Regions from separate parts of the Homo sapiens genome. Here region 1 is linked to region 2. A link means that fine-mapping ties the variant in region 2 to the expression of a gene that starts in the linked region. Tissue or cell type: amygdala. Region 2 holds a variant in brackets; the other region holds the start of a gene. All regions are shown on one strand. Distances are from middle to middle.

The links. PIP is the estimated chance that this variant, and not a neighbour inherited with it, causes the effect.
Region 1: it holds the start of MBOAT7, and the variant in region 2 is fine-mapped to the expression of MBOAT7 in amygdala (GTEx, PIP 0.99).

The regions. Positions count from the first base shown.
Region 1 is chr19:54,187,440-54,192,560 of GRCh38, reverse strand. MBOAT7 (membrane bound acylglycerophosphatidylinositol O-acyltransferase MBOAT7) reads left to right here and starts at 2,981. Exons shown (of 8, transcript NM_024298.5): 1 at 2,981-3,223; 2 at 4,050-4,128; 3 at 4,215-4,344. The coding sequence starts at 4,053. TSEN34 (tRNA splicing endonuclease subunit 34) reads right to left here and starts at 1,253. Exons shown (of 4, transcript NM_001077446.4): 1 at 954-1,253; 2 at 597-840; 3 at 188-445. The coding sequence starts at 1,196. RefSeq lists enhancers at 1-317, 2,286-2,967, 2,968-3,653 and a silencer at 1,162-1,363.
Region 2 is chr19:54,158,273-54,163,459 of GRCh38, reverse strand. It overlaps LENG1 (leukocyte receptor cluster member 1), which reads left to right and starts at 3,739. Exons shown (of 4, transcript NM_024316.3): 1 at 3,739-3,896; 2 at 4,999-5,178. The coding sequence starts at 3,765. It overlaps TMC4 (transmembrane channel like 4), which reads left to right. Exons shown (of 15, transcript NM_144686.4): 9 at 301-427; 10 at 690-787; 11 at 1,175-1,358; 12 at 2,200-2,330; 13 at 2,427-2,582; 14 at 2,915-2,993; 15 at 3,086-3,352. The coding sequence ends at 3,154. RefSeq lists an enhancer at 3,737-4,406. The variant G/C (reference allele first, on the strand shown) is at 2,988.

The sequences.
Region 1 (5,121 bases), 29 kb before region 2:
TGGGCCTATAATTCCAGCACTTTGGGGGGCCGAGGTGGAAGGATTGCTTGAGCCCAGGAATAGGGACCAGCCTAAGCAACAAGAGACCCCACCTCTATTAAGACAAAAAAAAAAAAAAAGAAAAACGCAGAATACATTGGGATCGTATGGAAAGGCACAGCAACCAGAGGCCCCAACCCATACTCACCAGGATAGACCAGGAAGTCACCTCCGAACTTGCCAGCCGCACTGAGGAAGAAGCCTCGCTCCCACAGGTCTCTGTAGATACTGTAGCGCAGCTCGTGGGCAGGGCGGCCGGCGTGGGGCCAGTCTTTAGACTGGACACGCCAGTCCAGGGGCCTGGCCTTGACCGGTCGAGGCCTGGCAGTGGCCAGCTGGACAAGGAGAGCAGATCTGGGCAAGGGGGCTACCCCATTTGAGGGTCCTGCTTGGGAAGACGAGGGGCCTGGTGGGGAGTACAGAGAAGAGTTTGGTAAATTCAAGGGGTAAAGTCTTCTCACCCTCAGGGAGACCCAGGCACTGGATTCCCAGCTAAAATTCCTAAAAGATCTCTCCTCTCCTTCCCGTGGTCCCTGGACTCCACCTCCCATGCTCACCAGCTTCCTCCTGCTCTCCCGAAGCCTGGCCATCACTGGTCTCATCCTCTTTGGCAGCCTGGCTCGAGCCGGCCTCCTGGCTTGAGCTGGCCCCTGAAGCCTGTTCTAGTTTCTGCTTCTTAGCAGCCTGGCCCTCCGTAATCTTCTCCAGGAGCTCCTGACGACGGGTCTCCCGGGCCTCAGCTGCCAAGGCGCTCTGCTCCTGGAAGCTCTCCTCTTGCTGGCGCTTGAAGGATGTCAGGGCCTGAGAAGCACACTTCGCTGGAACCTCCAAGCTTATGGTCCCTTCAGAAGCCAGGAAACTTGACTCCCAGGTCCCGCTCCCACCGAACCCGAGTTCGAGCCCCGCCCCCTTACCAGGCTGTGGTGCCGAGAGTCTGGACGCGGGGCGCTGACCAGAGTCACGGCGCCGATCTCGGCCAAGAGCCGCGCCTCTTCGGGCATCAGCAGCAGCGGGAGGCCCAGGCGCGAGTTCTGGCGGGGCCCGCGGGGCAGGGCGCCTACCGTGCGGCCCCCCACACCCAGGCGCTCCCGGAGGGCCTGCACCGCCTCGGCTCCCCACACCAGGGAGCGGCCGTTCGCCACCTCCACCACCAGCATCCTCCTGCGGGAGCCGGGAGGCAAAGCAGTTACCGAAACAGCTGCGCGCCGCGGACCGCTGCAGCGCACCCAAAGCCTCCGGGGTCTCGGCGAAGCCCCGCCCCTAGGCCTCAGGGGGCGGGGCCTCGCTCAGCCGCCGTTCACCACCTGCTGGGCCCGAGCGCCAGGCCCCGCCCCCGGGCGATCCCACCAGGCCTCGCGGCCGCCGGAGACGAGACGCCGGAGACAAGCCCCCGACCCTCTCCCCTCGCCAAGCCCCCAGGGTCCCGCTCTACCCTTGTGACCCTGCGGTCGGCACCCGCTCTGTGCCCGCACTGCCGTACCTACCATTGCGCCTTGGAGCGTGAAAAACAAACCTCCGCAAGCGCGGCGACACGCCCCCTTACAAAGGTCCATTTTGGCACCACCCTCTTGCAAAGTGGGCGTCCCCCTTCGGGTGTTCCCGTCAGCGGTCAGAAGCTCTGGAGGCTAAGGCACCGCCGAGGCCACACCCTCTTCCGGACGCTCGAGCCTTCGCTCCTCCTCTTTCCGAACGACTGTGATTCGGCTTTCGGACCTCCTCGCTCTCAGACTCCCACAGTACAAAACCCTGCCCCCTCCCGAGCACAGGAAGTTCGGCGTTCGGGCGTCCTCGGCTCCACCGAATCCGCAGCCCCGCCCCCTTCTCGAACGCCAGCAATTTGACGTTCGGGTGTTCTCGGCTCGGCCGAATCCGTAGCCCCGCCTCCTCCCGGACGCAATAGGTTCGGCGTTCGGGCGTCATCGGCTCCCGGCAGCCTCGCGGCCTGTGGCCCCGCCCCCTCCGAGCGCCAGCGCACCCCAGTTGGGGAGTTCCCGCCCTACGACCGAACCCCACAGCCGAAAGCCCCGCCCCCTGGACACCCGCCGTCCACTCTCCGCTCGGGCGGGCTCACCCCAATTGGGAGCGCTCAGTCCGCCTCCTTGCCTCCCTTCAGAATGTCCCACTGTCCACCGATAGAACCAGCGAGTCACCTCATAAACAGTAATTCGCAGTCGAGGTGGAGCCACCCACTGCGCACCGCGCCACGCGCTCCTTGCTCCACCCCCTCATGCCGACACCCTCGTCAACTTCGTCATCCCGCCCCATCAGCGCCGCGGGAAGTCAGGTCCCGCCCCTCGCAGGACCGAAGCCCCGCCCTCCTCCCGCGGGGGCCACCTTGGCTCCGCCCCACTGAGCGCACCTCCCTCTGCCGCTTCCTCTCCTCTACTTGGGAACTTGAGGATCGTCATCCTGGCCCGGTCCCGTAGGCGCACGCCGGCCCTCGGGGTTCCGCCCCTTTGAGGGCAAGTCGCTTTCGCCCCGCCCCCTTGTAAATACTCATGGGTGTCTGGCGAACCTGTTGACTCCGCCTATCATCCTAGCGTCACTTGTACCCAACTATCTACGAAGTAAACCGAAGCTTGTGGCCCCACCCACATCCGGCCGAGTCTGTGGCCCCGCCCACATCGGAACAGTGACCCTAAGGACTCGACTACCTCCGAAGAAAGCCGAAACATGTGGCTCCGCCCACAGTGGCCTCAGCTCTCCGTTCTCGACTATTGCCGAAGTGAGCCGAAGTTTGTGGCCCCGCTTCCGGAGAACTCAAGCTCCCGATTGTGCCCGAAGGAACCCGAAGGGAGACCCCGCCTCATTCCTCACGCCGAGCTCCAGACCCCGCCTCCTTTCCAGAGCCCGTCTGTTCCCCTTCGGGTCCAAAGCTTTTGGCTCCTCCTTGTTCCGAGCCCGAAGGCCCGCCCCTTCACGTACTCGGAGCTCGGATCCCAGTGTGGACCTGGACTCGAATCCCGTTGCCGACTCGCGCTCTCGGCTTCTGCTCCGGGGCTTCTTCCCTGCCCGCCCGGGGCCCTGACCGTGGCTTCTTCCCCGGCCTGATCTGCGCAGCCCGGCGGGCGCCCAGAAGGAGCAGGCGGCGCGGGGGCGCGCTGGGCGGGGGAGGCGTGGCCGGAGCTGCGGCGGCAAGCGGGCTGGGACTGCTCGGCCGCCTCCTGCCCGGCGAGCAGCTCAGGTGGGCCAGGGTGGCGGCGCCCAGTGGCGAGGCGAGGTTACACGGCGGCAGGGTCTCTGCGGGCTGGCGGGTGCGGGGCGGCCCCGGAGGCGCGTTGGAACTCGGGGCTGGCGCAACCGCCTGTGGCTCTGCCGGGGATGCGCTGGGGTGCGCGGGACGGGTTGGGGCTGGGCCTGGGCCTGGGCCTGGGGAGGGGAGGGTGTTCGATCCCCGGGTTCTCAGTAGGAGAGGGGTGTGGAGCTCCGAAGGAGGTGCAGGTTGGAGACCCGGGCTCCTCTGGGTGGTCTCGAAGGAGAAGGGCTGGGGGGTCCGGATATCTGGTTTCACAAGGGCCGGGGGATGGGGGATCCAAAGAGGGGGTCTGGGTTCCTGGATCCTCGCTGGAAGAGGGGGCTCGGAGGTCTAGATTCCTGGGCTGTCGAAGAGGAAGGGTCCGGGAGGGGTGCCGTTTCTGGGTTTTTAAAAGAGGGGCGTCTTCAAATCTGGGTCCCCAGTATGGGTGCGGGGAGTAGCTTTGATTTCTGCGTTCGCAAAGGAGGGGCTTGGGTGCTGGGAGATCCCCACACTTTCCTGGGTTCTCCAAGGACAGGAGAGCTGGAGGCCTGTGCGCTCAAAGGAGGGGCTGGGGGTGGATTCCTGTCTCCTCCAAGGAGGAAGGGGCTGGAGTCTGGGTTGCTAGGTTCTCAAAGGAGAGGAGCTGAGGCTCATACTCCATCATCCTCAAAAACTGGGGTCTAGAAGGCTGGGTTCCTGGATCCTCGAAGAGGGAGGAGGCAGGGGGCCTGGATTCCTGGGTTCTCACTGTGAATCTCTGCCCCTCCCCCAGACCATGTCGCCTGAAGAATGGACGTATCTAGTGGTTCTTCTTATCTCCATCCCCATCGGCTTCCTCTTTAAGAAAGCCGGTGAGTCAGGCTCCCTCCCCAGTGGAAAATAAAGGGGGGGGACCCTCTGGAAGGTTCCAGGCTTATGCTGTCCCTTCCCCCTGCAGGTCCTGGGCTGAAGAGATGGGGAGCAGCCGCTGTGGGCCTGGGGCTCACCCTGTTCACCTGTGGCCCCCACACTTTGCATTCTCTGGTCACCATCCTCGGGACCTGGGCCCTCATTCAGGCCCAGCCCTGGTGAGAATTTGGTGGAGGGAGGAGAGGGAGAGGAGGGGAGAGGGGGAAGCAACCTGTTTCCTCTTTGAGTCTTTTTCAGCTTCTGCCTCATGTCTAGCTGTCTCTTGTTGATCAGCTCATTTCTCTGTTTCATGTTTGTTTGTTTGTCTTTCTTTCTTTCTTTCTTTCTTTCTTTCTTTCTTTCTTTCTTTCTTTCTTTCTGAGATGGAGTTTCGCTCCTGTTGCCCAGGCTGCAGTTCAGTGGCACGATCTTGGCTCACTGCAACCTCCACCTCCCGGGTTCAAGCGATTCTCTTGCCTCAGCCTCCCAAGTAGCTGGGATTACAGGCATGCTCCACCATGCCTGGCTAATCTTGAATTTTTAATAGAGCTGGGGTTTCTCCATGTTGGTCAGGCTGATCTCGAACTCCTGACCTTGTGATCTGCCCACCTCAGCCTTCCAAAGTGCTGGGATTACAGGCGTGAGCCACCGCATCCGGCCTTCATCTGCTTTTCTTTCTCCCCTGCCTTCTGCGTCTGGTCCCTGTGTGTTTGTCCCAGTCCGCTACATCCATGTCATGGAGAGAGGTGGACAGTGTGTCTGCTGGCCTGGCCACCGTTCATATTCATTCATATCCACCTCTCTCTTCTTGAGCCCTGGACCTCGGAAATAAAGAAAAAGTGGAGGATTGCAGGGTCTTCACCCGAAGCTTCTCTTAACCTCATTCTCTGTTGGTGTGTGTTTCTATGTGGCTGAGCCTCTTCTCCCACTGTTTCAATCATACTCATTCGGTCCCT
Region 2 (5,187 bases):
TGGCTTCTGTAGTCCCAGCTACTCGGGAGGCTGAGGCAGGAGAATGGCTCGAGCCTGGGAGGTGGAGGTTGCAGTGAGCTGAGATCGCGCCACTGCACTCCAGTCCGGGTGACAGAGTGAGACCCTGTCTCAAAAAAAAAAAAAAAAAAAAGAAAGAAAGAAAGAAAGAAATCCTGATTCTGTCACTGGGCCTCAGCTTCATCTGTGAGATGGGTTGAATGCGGGCGCGTTCCACTGAGAAGGGAACTGCCACATGGTGGGTACCGGGTCAGGGCCCATTCTCTGCCTTCCCCCCTTCAGGACCGTGTTTCTTCGCCTCGCCTCCCTGGTGGTCCTGCTCTTCTCTCTCTGGAATCAGATCACTTGTGGGGGCGACTCCGAGGCTGAGGACTGCAAAACCTGTGGCTACAATTACAAACAACTTCCGGTGAGAACGGCATGGGTGTGCGTGGGACTCTTGGGTCCCTGAAGGAAAGATGGAGCTGGGTGGGTCCAGACTCTTGGTTTGGGCGGAGAGGGGAGCTTGGGGTGCTGGAACACTCTCCCAAGGGTATGAAAGTTTGAAAAACGAGGACCCCCAGAGAAAGTATTGACAGGGTCTCATAGGCTTGCGATGTGGAGACTCGGACGCGTGGGCCTCCAGGTGCCCGGGTCCCGAGTTCTTTCTGATATATTTCTTCCTTCTTCAGTGCTGGGAGACTGTCCTGGGCCAGGAAATGTACAAACTTCTGCTCTTTGATCTGCTGACTGTCTTGGCAGTCGCGCTGCTCATCCAGTTTCCTAGAAAGTGAGAGCCCCGCCCCTTGCTGTGGCCCCGCCCCTCTAGGACGAGGCCGTGCCCCATCGCGCTGTTCTTTTCACCGCGCACCTTTTTACCATTCCCGCCTCTGCCTGCTCCCTTTGCTTGCCCTAGGTCCGCAGATCTCCCCGCTCCCCGCCCTTGTTTTAGTGGGTTACTTCCCTCTGGCCCCGACGGCGGCGACATCTGGGTCCCTTCTAGTCCTCAGGACCCGCCCTCTGGACACACCCCCTCCACGTGGAGTCCTGAAAGTCCCGCCCCCCCCCCCCCCACCACCAATACGCATGCTTCCTATTGGCGGGCGGGGCGGTGGAGGCGTGGAAACTCCAGGCCGCCACTCCCCTGACTCCGGCCCGGCCCCGCCCCGTCCTTCAGGCTCCTCTGTGGCCTCTGTCCTGGGGCGCTGGGTCGTCTGGCGGGGACCCAAGAGTTCCAGGTGCCCGACGAGGTGCTGGGGCTCATCTACGCGCAGACGGTGGTCTGGGTGGGGAGTTTTTTCTGCCCTTTACTGCCCCTGCTTAACACGGTCAAGTTCCTGCTGCTTTTCTACCTGAAGAAGGTAAGGGGTAGGGGGGACCCTTGGGTCTGAGGCAGGAGGTATTGGGGCCCGCACTCCTGGGTCAAGGGCAAGGAAGATCCTGGGGGCCTGGATTACTCGGTCCTGAGAGAGGAGGGGGTTGGAGGACAGACTACTGCATCTGAGAGGAGGGGTCTAGGGCATTCTGACTTATATGTCTGAGGATCTGGGGACTCAGACTCCGGGGTCCTAGATGAGGAAGGGGCTCAGACTCCTGGTTCGGAAAAAAGGAGAGGCAGGTAGGCCGGGTGCAGTGGCTCACGCCTGTAATCCCAGCACTTCGGGAGACTAAGGCGGGTGGATCACCTGAGGTCAGGAGTTTGAGACCAGCCTGGCTAACATGGCAAAACCCCGTCTCTACTAAAAATACAAAAAAAATTAGCCGGGCTTAGTGGCAGGCGCCTGTAATCCCAGCTACTCAGGAGGCTGAGGCAGGGGAATTGCTTGAACCAGGGAGGTGAAGGTCGAAGTGAGCCAAGATCGTGCCACTGCACTCCAGCCTGGGCGACAGAGCGAGACTCCGTCTCAAAAAGAGAAAACAAACAAACAACAACAACAGCAAAACAAATTAGCCGGGAGTGGTGGTGCACACCTGTAATCCCAGCTACTCGGGAGGCTGAGACACGAGAATAGCTTGAACCCGGGAGGGGAGGCTGCAGTGAGAGCCACTGCACTCCAGCCTGGGCGACAGAGCGAGACTCTGTCTCAAAAAAAAAAGCCTGGGCGACAGAGCGAGACTCTGTCTCAAAAAAAAAAAAAAAAAAAAATGGAGGCACAGACTCTTGTGTTTCAGAGCCCTTTTCTCCGTGCCTTCCCCCACCAGCTTACCCTCTTCTCCACCTGCTCCCCGGCTGCCCGCACCTTCCGGGCCTCCGCGGCGAATTTCTTTTTCCCCTTGGTCCTTCTCCTGGGTCTGGCCATCTCCAGCGTTCCCCTGCTTTACAGCATCTTCCTGTAAGTGCGAGAGGCTCCCGCCTCTCTCCCTCCCTCTCTCCCCATTCAGTGTTCAGACTCCTGGCACTATGTGAGCCCAGCCTGTCTTGACTTCAGGATCCCGCCTTCTAAGCTGTGTGGTCCATTCCGGGGGCAGTCGTCCATCTGGGCCCAGATCCCTGAGTCTATTTCCAGCCTCCCTGAGACCACCCAGAATTTCCTCTTCTTCCTGGGGACCCAGGCTTTTGCTGTGCCCCTTCTGCTGATCTCCAGGTGAGACGGCCCAGACTTCTGGGTCTGGGTTTGAATGCGTGTGATCTGGGGGCCACCACCTGCGTCCAAGAGAGGAGAGGCTTGGGCGTGGGAGCAGGCAACGTACTGAGTCTGAGGGAGGAGGCCTAGGCTCCTGGACTGCTGGGTCCGAAGGAGGAGGTGGGCGGGACGTAGGACTCCTGGATCTGAAGGCGGAGGGGCTGGGAGACTGAACTCCTTGAGCCCAGACGAGGAGGGGCTTAGGCGTCCACATCCCTGGCTTCGAAGGAGCCAGACGTTTGGATATAATGGAAGAGCGTGTCAGGAGTGGCTTCCGTTCCTGTCTCCTTCAGCATCCTGATGGCGTACACTGTGGCTCTGGCTAACTCCTACGGACGCCTCATCTCTGAGCTCAAACGTCAGAGA[G/C]AGACGGTGAGCCAGGCGGGTCCCTGAGAGGGCCCCTGGGGAACATGGAAAGGGGTTGGGGAAGAGGATTGTCTCACCTCCACCTCTCTTTGCCCCAGGAGGCGCAGAATAAAGTCTTCCTGGCACGGCGCGCTGTGGCGCTGACCTCCACCAAACCGGCTCTTTGACCCCCGCAGCCCACGTCCCGCTTTCAGACCCCAGGCCCATTGTAAGCCTAGGTCACAACATCTGTAAACTAGGAGAACTGGAGAAGACTCCACGCCCTTCCAGCTTTGGTATCTGGAGATTTCCAGGGCCCCTCGCCGCCACGTCCCTGACTCTCGGGTGATCTTCCTTGTATCAATAAATACAGCCGAGGTTGCTGAGCGCGCTTTGAAATCTGCGTCCTGAAGGTGGGGGCAGGGCTACAGCGGGGCAGGAGCCAATCAAATGTACGGGCATGTTTGTCGGTGCAGAGCGCTCTTCCGCAAGGAGACTTGTCGGTCATGTCGGCCAATCGACGGCCGCATCTGGTAGCATCAGGGGCGGGCCAACTTATGATTGGTTCAGATCTGTGACAAGAGGCGGTTGCTAGGGGATACCACGAGCCGAACGCCTAGCATTCGCTGTGATAAAGGGCGTCTCAGCCAATCACCTGTCGCTACAGGCCAGGGGGCCGTACCAACTAATTCGGAACCAATCCGCGGTCGAAGTAGGGACAAGAAAAAGGGGGGCATCCTCTCGCCAATCGGAAGTGCAAAGAGGCGGGCGTGCCAGTCCCTGGACAGCTACGACGCCATGAATATCTTGCCCAAGAAGAGCTGGCACGTCCGGAACAAGGACAATGTCGCCCGCGTGCGGCGTGACGAGGCCCAGGCCCGGGAGGAGGAGAAGGAGCGTGAGCGGAGGGTGCTGCTGGCTCAGCAAGAGGTAAGCTCGGAAGCCGGCAGGGCGGCGCTCCGGGGCCCAGCGCGCAGGCGCCGCGGTTGGGGGCCGGAAGCGGAGGCGTTGCGCAGGCTCAATGTGCCCCGTGTGAAATTCGGGACCAGGCGCCGATCCCACTTTCGAGGACGTTGCCCCGCAAACCTTGTGCCCACTTCCACGAAACCTTCCTTGATCTCGCCCTCGTCTTAGTTTTTCCCCCACTGATGTATTTCACATGGCTGGAACAGTGTCTAGCACAAAAGAGAAGCTTAACATTTAATGAATCCGTGAACCCTTGGACAGTTCAAGGAAATTCGGATCACTTTTTAGTTTGCCTGCACAGCCTATTTATTGAGCATCTACTGTATGCTAACTACATGCCGTGCACCTGACTTGCGGAATCCCCAATAAGCACTGTTCGTTCTTAGAGGGGCACTGTCATCTCTGTTGCACGAAGTGAGATGGCTTCAGTGAGGGGAAGGCACATTTTAAGGAGAGGCGGACAGCCAGGCTCCACGCCATCGGGCGAGCCCTTTCGTGCACCGCCCCCTAGACACATACACACAAACACGGGCTTTCCGTATGGCTCTTTAAATCTGTTTGGTGTACACCCAACTTTCATTTCCTTAGCTAGTCTGATCCTCCGCCGTGGGTGGGAGGTAGTCTAGGTTTTTAGAATCTCAGTAGGCTGCTGAGCGCTGTTTGAAATCCGCGTCCTGAAGGCAGGGGACAGGGCTTCAGCAGACTTGGGGTAGTCACTTGGAGCCATGGCTAGAATTCAGATCGTCTGGCCTAATGCATACCTTTATGGCTGTTTTAATTGTCTCACTTGAGGTTAGGAACCCCTTTGGTTTAGGCCAGGGACCTCCTCCCATACATCCTTGATGACCCGTGGTTTACTATTTGAAAGGGAGTTTACAAAACCCAGGCGTTGCCTCATCTGCCTACCCTCACCCCCAGCTAGGACAGGTGCCTCTTTTAGGCGCCTAGTGCTCCCTTTCTCATAACCCCAGCACCCTGGACTGCCATTTTCTGTGGTGGGCACCAGACTCACAGTTCTTGAATTACCTCTAGGTTCTGAATGTCCTGCCTATAACTTTCTCCCCAGGCCCGTACAGAATTCCTACGGAAGAAAGCCAGACATCAGAACTCACTGCCTGAGCTTGAAGCAGCAGAGGCGGGAGCCCCAGGTTCTGGCCCTGTGGACCTGTTTCGGGAGCTGCTGGAGGAAGGGAAAGGAGTGATCAGAGGCAATAAAGAGTACAAGGAAGAAAAGCGACAGGAGAAAGTAAGCTGG